2 separate regions of the Homo sapiens genome follow, and region 1 is linked to region 2. The links come from fine-mapping of genetic effects on gene expression. A gene starts in region 2. The other region holds a variant in brackets. All regions are shown on one strand. Distances are from middle to middle. Region 1 has its middle 20 kb from the start of ZNF391. Region 2 holds the start of ZNF391 (zinc finger protein 391).

Region 1 (5,381 bases), 19 kb before region 2:
TTGATGGCAACCTGGATACACAGATGAAGGGAAAGGGACTATAAAGATGGATTTCTGGACTCTGGCTAGAGTGGCTAAATGGATGGAGTGCCACTGTGAATTTTGTTTGATTAATGCAGAAATAATTAAGAAAGTTCTGGATGAAGGGAAATCACACCAGATAGAAATTCTGATTCCCAAAAAGAAATAAAGAAATAAAGAGCATTTAGAAATCATTGGGCAAATTAAAATTTGTTTTTAAAAGTTTGCTTTTATCTTTATTTTTTTTTCCTCTTTTTCTTTTTTGAGACAGGTTTTTCTCTGTCATCTTGGCTGGAGTGCAGTGGCACAATCTCGGCTCACTGCAACCTCTGACCCTGGGTTCAAGTGATCCTCCCACCTCAGCCACCCAAGTAGCTGGGACCACGGGCATGCACCAACAGGCCTAGGTATTTTTTTTTAAGTTTTAGTAGAGACAGGGTTTAACCATGTTGGCTAGGCTGGTCTTGAACTCCTGAGCTCAAGCGATGCACCTGTCTTGGTCTCCCAAAGTCCTGGGATTGCAGACATGAGCCACCACGCCTGGCTGCTTTTGTCTTTATTTCTTTATAATATATATAACTATTTAAAATATATACATAACATTTTCTTGAACAACTTATAACATATGTAGATGTAACACACAGAACAACAAGCAGAACAAAAAGAACGAGGTGTCATAATTGAACACATATAGTTGCAAGGCTTCCACTTTTTGTGAAGTGACACATTAAATCTAAGAAGATTGTGAAGAAGTAACGATATATATTGTAATCCCTAGAGCAGCTACTAAAAACGTAGTTTAAAAGTCTGTAAGAAAATTTAAGATTTTTAAGAGAAAACCTTAAAATTCAGCCATATGAAGATTAAAATTAATATAGCAAATTAAGTTTTCCACAGAAGTGTTAGGGACTGCCAAGATTATCGAGGAGGCATTTTGAGGTTGGAGAGCATAAACTTTTAATTGTTTTAAATCATTCAACATTTATTCAACACAAGTTTAATGAGTACTATATGCTAAATACTCTAGGCACGGTGATATAACAGTGAAAGAGACTAAAAAACAAAACAAAACAAAAAGAAAAAAACTCTGCCTACATAGAGCATACTCCATAGTAAGAAAGACAAACAATACACTCGCTACATAAATACATTGTATATTATTTATTGGTCTGTTCTTGCATTGCTACAAAGAACTACCTAAGACCAGGTTAATTTATAAAGAAAATAAATTTAATTGACTCACCATTCCACAGGCTGTACAGGAAGCACACCTGGGGAGGCCTCAGGAAACTTACAATCATGGTGGAAGGTGAAGGGGAAGCAGGCATGCCTTACATGGCTGGAGAAGGAGGAAGAGAGAGAGAGAGGGCAGGTGCCACCCACTTTTAAACAACCAGATCTTGTGAGAACTCACTCACTATCAAAAGAACAGCAAGGTGGATATCTGCCCCTATGATCTATCACCTCCTACCAGGCCCCTCCTCCAACACTGGGGATTATAATTCAACATGAAAGTTGGTGGGGCGGGAACCCCACTCTTCCAGGAACAGCTGCAGCTGCCCAGCTGTGGCTGTGAACCTGGGCATCCCTGTGCTCTTGCGGGCCCTGGAAGCCCTGTCCTCCACAGGCTCCAAAGTGCCTGCTCCCACTGCTTGGCATCTCCCTGGTCCTGGCATCCACTCTGATTTTACAGCAAAGTTGAGGCTGAGCCTGGGTGCAGTCACGACCTGACCAGGTGTGCTCAGGGCAGCGCTGACATGCCAGCCCCTGCCACCTTTCCCCCCTCCAGACTTTGGGCACTGAAGAGCATGGGAAGGAGGCTGGAGCCGGGTTGAGGGTGGCTCAGTGTGGGCCTTCAGGCCCAGCACAAACAGCCTGGGCACCATGGAGGACATAATTGATGGTGACAGGAGGCATACAGGCTCCTGGGTGGAAAGGGGTGGGTCCCCTTTGAAGCCCCACCCTCCAGCCAGGGATGGCCTAACACATGGGGGCTGGGCTGTCAGTTCTGGCTGCAATCCACAGCCTGGCCTTAAGTGAGAACTTCTGGTGCTTCTTCCAGCCACCCGTGGCCACCGTGGACCAATCAGCACGCACTTCCTCCCTTCTGAGCTCATAAAAACCTCAGACTCAGTCAGATTCAAACAGACATGGGGAGGACCTAACTGCGGAAACGAGCTACCCACTGCAGGTCTCCTCTCTGCTGACAGCTGGACACTCATGGATACAACCTGTCTGTGGAAAGAAGCCACCCACTTTGGGTCTCCTGAGAGCTGTTCTGTCACTCAATGAAGCTCCTCTCCACCTTGCTCACCCTCCAGTTGTCCACATACCTCATTCTTCCTGGACATGGACCAAGCATGGGCCAAAAACTTGGGACCTGCCAAATGGAAGGACTGAAAAAGCTTTAACACAAACAGGGTTGAAACACGCCTC[T/C]CCATCTGCCACATTGCAGGCAATGAAAAGAAGAGCTGTAGCCCTTAAGTGAGCCTAGATCTAGAGACTCCCTGAGCCAGCACTATGACACCCTCTTTGGGGCTCTGTGGCTCCTGGCATCTCCAAGCTTCCAGAAGCCATTGCTTTCCCCTTGTCCAGACATGGGTGCCCACAGTGGAAGTACTTCCATTGCATGCGGTATATCTGTTCCAGCTGCAGCCTTGTGCAGAGCTGCTTGCACCACCACAGCAGCCAGCATGCTTGGTTGTGCTCACTGGCCAGACCCCATGCTCACTTGCCCACACACCCCTTGCTGTGTGGCTCACCCTTGGCAGATGTGGGATCTGAGACAGTAGTGTGAGTTGAGCACAGCCTGCCAGGCTGAGTGGGTGGAACGAGCCCAGTGGTAAAACCAATACTCAATTACTCAGGCAGAAGGAGCTGCCGGCCATAGAGGCTTCTGGCTGGCGAAGCAATAACCCAAGGATCCTATGACATTTTCAACTTGTCTTATTACCTTAACATAATCTATTTACAATGCTAACTCACCCCAATTAGTATCCCACCTATGTCCCCTCCACAGCACACTGGTGTCTCTTCCAAAGCACCTTATTCCTCTTAGATATTCTAGGTTCTCTTAACTGGAGTTACTTTTAATTCCTTTCTCTTTCATCCCCTAAATCTAAACCAAACCATTACTGTTCCTTACCAAAACAAGCTGTGTCATGGCATTTTTTTTCCCAAAGTTTCTAATAATTCACAATCAGCTCTACAACAAAGTCAAACCCTTAGTCCTACTTAGCACAGCAAATTTCACCCTTAAAATTTTCAATATATGGCTACTACCCATTGCCCATAGAAGACACGGTCTCTTCTACCTCTAAGTTTTGTCTTATATTTTCTTCCCTTAAAATCCCTCAGTTCTCCTTTGACAAAATTGCAACCATATCTCAGTGCACACCAAAATTCCACCCCTTCATAAAATCCTCCAAATCACACTCTCCTTCTCTGAACTCCTATGGGATGTTTTCTCTTTACTACTTAAAATGGATGTGTGTGTTTCCTTGAATTCTTCCTTAACTCCTTGGTTAGACAAGGCTGCTGAAGAACTGAATACCACAGACAATGCCTAATTGAGAGCCTACCTGCTATGCTAGTTATCAAATGCTAGTTACTAAATGCTATGCTAGTTACCAGAAACAAACAAACAAACAAACAACAAAAACAAAAACACTATGGGAAGGCAGGTGGCAATAGACAACCAATCTTATAAAATTCATGATCAAAGAGAATAGGCCTTGGTTCCTAGAAAATAAAATATCTGGAATTCAAGTGACTGAATTGAAGTTTTTTTGGGCCCCAAACCACCAGAATGAAAGTAGAAAATATAAGATATTTCAGGAAATGAAAAGAAAATCCAGCTCACCCTGAATCCAGCCATAAAGGGCCTAGCAGTCATTCTCTCTTCTTCTGGGCTCTTCTCTTGAAGAAGGGCAGAGTCTTGAGACAGTGGCTCTGAGGGAAGAGAGAGGAGCTACGAAGAAGTCAGCTTGTGTCTATAGCAACCACTTGATATTCTAGAACTACACTCTCCAATATGGTAGCCATTCCCCACATGTAGCTATTTAAATTAAAATTAAATAAAAGACTTAATTCTTCAATTGCAATAGTCACATTTCAGTGCTCAATAGCTAATGTGGTTAGTGGCTACTGTACCGAGCAATGTATACATCAAAAATATCCACAAAAGTTATATTGCATAGCACTGGTCTAGAAATCCACATATGTGGTATGTTTTTGAAGTCATACCAACTGAATCTTCAGCTCCAGGAAGTAAAGGCAACCAAACATTCCTTGCCACCTCATGACCACAGAAACGCCACAGGCATTGCATTCTCAATAGTTTGAATGTTTGCCTTCCCAAACCTCTTGTTGAAATTCAATTCCCAATGTTGGAGGTGGGCCTAATGGGAAGCTTTGGATCACGGCGGTGAATCCCTCATGAATGGCTTGGTATTGTCCCCCATAGTAAGGTTCTCACTCTATTAGTTCCTGCAAGAGCTGATTTATTCATTTATTTATTTACTTTGGTTGAGGTGGAGTCTCACTCTGTCGCCAGGTTGGAGTGCATTAGCACAATCTTGGCTCACTGCACCCTCCGCCTCCCGGGATAAAGCGATTCTCCTGCCTCAGCCTCCTGAGTAGCTGGGACTACAGGCACCCGCCACCACTCTCGGCTAATTTTTGTATTTTTAGTAGAGATGGGTTCCACCATGTTGGCCAGGATGGTCTCAATCTCTTGACCTCGTGATCCATCCGCCTCGGCCTCCCAAAGTGCTGGGATTACAGGTGTGAGCTACCGCTCCAGGCTAAAGCCGGTTGTTAAAAAGAGCCTGGTCCCCCTCTCCATTCTCGCTTTCTTCTTCTCTTGCCATGTAATCTCTGCACGTGCCAGCTCTCTTTCACCTTCCACCATGAATGGAAGCAACTTGAAGCCGTCACCAGAAGTAGATGCTGGAGCCATTCTTTTTATATAATCTACAGAACTATGAGCCAAATAAGCCTCTTTTCTTTTTAAATTAACCAGCTTAGGTATTCCTTTACAGCAATAGAAGCAGTCTAAGACACCATCCATGGTTTAAGTAGGTTCCAGATAACAAGAGCAGTTACCTAGACTCTATCATAGCATTTACTACCTGTTTTGAAATTATCTTTTGGAGTATCTTTTGCCATCCCCACCCCTACACACGAATCAAGATTTTCCCATCTTTATATTCCTAACAACAAAACTGTGCCTGGCATATATATGTAAGTCTTGATATGTTTGATGAAATGAATAGACGAGGCTAAAATTTGTGTCAAACTCATAATTTAGATTTTAACATATTGAATTCTCACATTCATTCAGCTCTGTGATAAGGACT
Region 2 (5,381 bases):
AAAAACTGATAGAACTTCAAGAAGGAAGAGATGCATCTACTATCACAGAAATCTCAAAAATTCTTTATCAGAAATGGGCAGATCCAGGAAGCAGAAAATCAGTAAGGATATAGTTGAAATCAACAACATCATCAATCAACTAGATATAATGGCCATCTATAGACTTCATCCAAGAACAGCAGAATACTCTTTCTTCTCAAACTCACATGGAACATTAATCAATATAGACCATGTTCTGGGCTGTAAAACATAACTTAACAAATTTAAAAGAATAGAAATCATACAATGATTTATCTCAGATGACATTAGAGTTAACTAGAAATCAATAACAGAAAGATCATTGGAAAATCTCCCACATACTTGGAGATTAAGCAATACACTTCTAAATAATACATGGGTCAAAGAAGAAATGCCAAGAGCAATTAAAAGATACTTCAAACTACATGAAAATGAAAACACAACTTATCAAAATTTATAGAATGCTGTGAAAGCAGTGCTTAGGGGGAATTTATGGCAATGAATATATACATATTAGAAATAGCATAAAAATACCTAGGAATAAATTTAACCAAGGAAGTGAAAGACCTGTATGCTGAATACTGCAATTGCTTAAAGAAATTAAAGAAGACCTAAATAATTGGAAAGACATCCCATGTTCATGGGTTGGAAGACTAACTACTGATAAGATGATAATACAATTTGATATACAGATTCAATGTATTCCTTATAAAAATTTCAACATTTGTTTGCAGAAATAGAAAATCCCATCCTAAAATTCACATGGAAAATCAAATTACCCTGAATAACCAATGAAAACCTTGGAGAAAAGAATAAAGTTTAAAGACACATACTTCATAATTTCAAAACTTTACACAAGCCTACAGTAACCTAAAGAGTGTGGTGCTGGAATAAGAATAGGAATATAGACCAATAAAATAGAAAAGAGAGCCCAGAAATAAACCTCACATATACGGTTGATTGATTGATTTTCAACAAGTGCCAAGACCATTCAATGGGAAATGGACAGTATTTTCAACAAATGGTGCTGGGAAAACTGGATATCCAAATGCAAAATAATAAAGTTGTAGTATTTACACCATCTACAAAAATTAACCCAAAATGGATCAAGGACCTAAATTTAAGAAGCAAAACTATAAAACTCTTAGCAGAAAACATAAAAATCTTTATTAGACAATGTAATTTTCAAGTATTGCACAGGTGATAAAAATAAATAAATGGAGCTTCATCAAAATTAAAAAGTTTTATGCATCAAAGGACACTATCAAAAGAGAGAAAAACTTCACAGACTGGGAGAAAATATTTGCAAATCATATCTGAAGAAGAATATCTGGAATATACAAAAACTCATGCAACACAACAAAACCTAATTCAAAAATAGGCAAAGGATTTGAACAGACATTTCTCCAAAGAAGACACACAAATAAGTACATGACAAGATGCTCAACATCACTAGCCATTAGGGAAATGCAAATTAAAGCCACAATGAGATAAAGCTTATACCCATTATGATGGTTATAATACTACAACTACAACAAAACAGAAGTTAACAAGTGTTAGCAAAGATGTGGAGAACTAGAACCCTCCTGCACTGCTGATGGGAATGTAAAACGATGCAGCCATTATGGAAAACAGTTTGATGGTTCCTCTAGAAAGCTGATTGCAGAGTTACCATATGATATAGCAATTCAATGCCTAGGTGTATACCCAAAGAATTGAAAACAGTGACTCAGATACTTGTACACCAATGTTCACAGCAGCATTATTCACAATGGCCAAAAGGCAGGAACCACCCAAGTGTTCAACAAGAGATTAATGGATAAACAAAATATTATGTATGTATATTTATACACTGTTTGTGTATAAACACACACATATACACGAAGGAATATTATTTAGCCATTAAAAGGCATGAAGGATACATGCTGCAGTATGAATGAACCTTGAAAACTTTATGCTAATTAAAAATAATCCAGACATAAATAGACAAATATTGTATTATTTTACTTATATGGCATATCTAGAACAGGCAAATTCATAGAAACATAGTGTAAAATAAAGGTTACCAGGGACTGTGGGGAGCAGGGAATAGAGACTGCTCAATGGGCATCTTTAGGGATGACGAAAATGTTCTAGAATTAGATAGTGACGGTGCTGTTGTGAATACGCTAAAAACTTTACTGTATGACTTTAAAATGGTAACTTTAATGTTGTGCATAGTTTACCACAGTTTGAAAGTGTTTTTAATTTTTAAAAATAGGAAATGATAAAATTAGACTTTATCTAATTCTTTCCAGCTTTATAATTTGGATCCTGCTCCTTTGTACTTCATGGCTCATGCTTTATACTTACTTGATGTTTCTATGGTACTTGTGCACAGCTGTCATGTATCAGACCTGCAGTTTTGCACATGCTTTCCACTCTTCTAGTTCCTCAACTATTTGTAAGGTTGCCCTCCTTTATGTTTTCCATTAAATCTTCCATTAGTCAAACCACTCCAGTGTCCCTCGTTCCATAAGTTTCCCCTGCTCTGAACTCCCAGGGCACATTGTGCAACTTCATTACCTTATATTAAAATTATCTGGAATTTTAAAAAATCTACTAGATTAGGGTAGTGTCCTGATTTTATTCATTTTTTTCTTTTGGTGAAATTTGAGACATGTCTTGCATTTAACAGTATTTAAGCAACTAGATTGTGCAACGGAGCCAGTTTCTCCAGACAGGCTGGAGAGACCACTTGCATCAGAATCATCTGGGGTGCCCCTTGAAAATGCAATGTTCCGGGCCAACGAGTCAATCTCGGAGTGTAAATCTTGTGAAGCTGTATTTTAACAAGCTCACTTGGTGATTTATTTGTGTACGCTATTTAAAACTCTGTGAACCACCGGTCTAGGCTATACTTTGCAGTGTATTAAGGTGGTCTTCGGCACCTCTCGCAGACCCCCTTCCTCTTGCCTCTAGCGCCAACCTCTCAGCCTCTCGCATACCAGGGGAGGGGCTTTGCAAAACCTTCCACGAAAGTGAATCCCAGCACAGCCCTGCTGTAGCTGGCTCTCAGGCGCAAGCGCAGAGCTGCGACCGCTGCTGATACGTTGCTCAGTCTCAGTGTGGTCTCTGTTTTGCAACTGGTCGTCCGCGTCAGGAGACTTAGGTCCAGGCGACTGCCCAGACAATGACTGGTCCCGCATACCGAGCAGAGCATGATCAGCAGCAGTCTGAGTGGAAGAGTGCCTGTGATCTTAGGGAACCTGATGGGCGTTGGAGCAGCGGTTCGACGCATGGGTTTCTCTTTAATCCTTCCGACTTCCCCAAGCCCAGCGCACTCAGGTTCCGCTCCAAGTGCGGGACCCGCCCGGGGTGTGTCGGGGGTACTCGGCCGGAGGCGGCCGGTGAGTGAGGCTTACAGGGCCCCGGGACCAAGGTGGGTGCTCTTAGAGGTTCTGGAAAGCGGAAACACGGGTTCTTCGAAGGAAACGGGCGAAAGGGTCGCGTGTGGTTTGGCTGCAGGTCGGGTCAGGAGGCACCTCCACGGTTGGGACGCCGCGTGGCGTGGGGTCATGAAGCCCCCAGCGCTCGTCTCACTGGCGGGCCAGCCTAGTCCCTCTGCGGCAGTGACAGCCAGTGGTTTTCCCCGGGTGTATCCCTGGGAGATGAAAAAGAGCAGGGTTGCTCCCTGCTTCCCCTCTAGCTGGGCGAGGGAGGTCTTCGGTACTGGGGTGTTTCCCAGGTGCTTACTGAGTGCAGGCACTGCTCCAAGAGTTTTTACCTGCATTAACTCATTTAATCCTTGCATCAACCCTATGAAGTAATGTACTATTATTATGCCCATGTTACAGATAAGGAAATTGAGGCACACAGAGATGAAGTACTTGCTTGGCCGGGCGCAGTGGCTCACGCCTGTAATCCCAGCACTTTGGGAGGCCAAGGCGGGCGGATCACCTGAGGTCGAGACCAGCCTGGCCAATACGGTGAAACCCGTTCTCTACTAAAAATACAAAAATTAGGTGGGAGTGGTGGCGCGCGCCTGTAATCCCTGCTACTCGGGAGGCTGAGGCAGGAGAATCACTTGTACCCGGGAGGCAGAGGTTGGAGCGAGCAGAGACCACGCCACTGCACTCCAGCGTAGGCAACAAGAGTGAAACTCCGCGCCCCTCCCCCCCAAAAAAGAGAAGTACTTGCTTGAGTGCCAGTCCTTAGTTTATGTTTCTGATGATGAAGGTTGGTACTTGAATAAAGTAGTTGTTAATTATTTGTTGTGGGTGTATTGACAGTTACTGTGGATCATTGAGTTTGTGCTTTATGTGTGAGTTTGTGCTTTGAGCCAATATCTGGGAACATTGTTACCTGAAGATCACCTTTGGTAGGACAAGATTTTCTCTATTCTGTGATTAAACTGAGGCTGCCCAGGCAGTTCTGCTGATTGCTTTGTGGATTGGCAAAGGCTCCAGGAAGCAATCAACCTAGTGCCACAAAACAAAGCACCCAGAGAAGCCCTATTCCTGACCCTTCAAAACCTTCTTCCTTCTGAAGGGGGTAGAAAATAAAGGAGAATTATCCCTGGATCAGGAATTGATTATAGGAGAGACAAGCAATGTCAAAAGAATTTTAGATAATTAGGGTAACTGTGGTGGCCAGCGCTGTTAGTGCTAAAAAGTTTGAGTCACATAAAGGAATAGCAAACCACCAGGTTGGCTAGGGCTGCAGCATGTTGTGACCACTTAAGAGAATAATGATTTTGTAGGGATACAGTATCCAGAGAGCAGTAAGGTGACTCAAATAATGAAAGTATGAGGAAGAAAGGAGAAAAGGAGAGGCAACTTTCCACATTATGGTGGAGGAATCCCTTGGATGGACTCTGGATAAAGGTATAGCCCTAACCTCCTAGCATCTCTGAAATATGTTTGGGGGCTATCCCTGAAACTTTTGTCACATCCGCTAGACTTCCTTTTCCCATCTTACATACATCCTCCAAAGCCAGGAAAAAGAATGCATCTCTCCATGCTCTAGAGCAGCAGCTGCTGAAGGGAGACTCATAAATCCTCTGACAGCATCTTTCCTTAAACATACACCATCACAGTTTTCAAATTCATTGATGTGAGATGAGCACAGCAATAGCATCATCTCCCTTATACTATATATGATATTCTTTATTGTAAATGTTTTGCCATAGTTTAACTTGCAGTATTGATGAAAGTTTTGTAAGAAAAGACAAGCACATGCTAGTAATGGTGTTTTATAATGTGGGACGAGATTTTTCAGAAAAGTGACTTGACCAAGGAAGTGCAGCTGTAAGCAGTGTCATCTGTCTTCTATTTTGACCCTCAGGAAGAAGTAAGGGGACTAGTGCCATAGTGTCTTTGAAC

What was found. PIP is the estimated chance that this variant, and not a neighbour inherited with it, causes the effect.
Region 1: its variant is the best candidate, but not a certain one, in a credible set for the expression of ZNF391 in esophagus muscle (GTEx, PIP 0.62).

What each region holds. Positions count from the first base shown.
Region 1 is chr6:27,366,253-27,371,633 of GRCh38, forward strand. It overlaps the pseudogene ZNF204P. Among named protein-coding and RNA genes, the nearest start is that of ZNF391, 20 kb to the right of the region's middle. RefSeq lists enhancers at 1,267-1,767, 1,768-2,268. The variant T/C (reference allele first, on the strand shown) is at 2,458.
Region 2 is chr6:27,385,637-27,391,017 of GRCh38, forward strand. ZNF391 (zinc finger protein 391) reads left to right here and starts at 3,123. Exons shown (of 3, transcript NM_001076781.3): 1 at 3,123-3,439.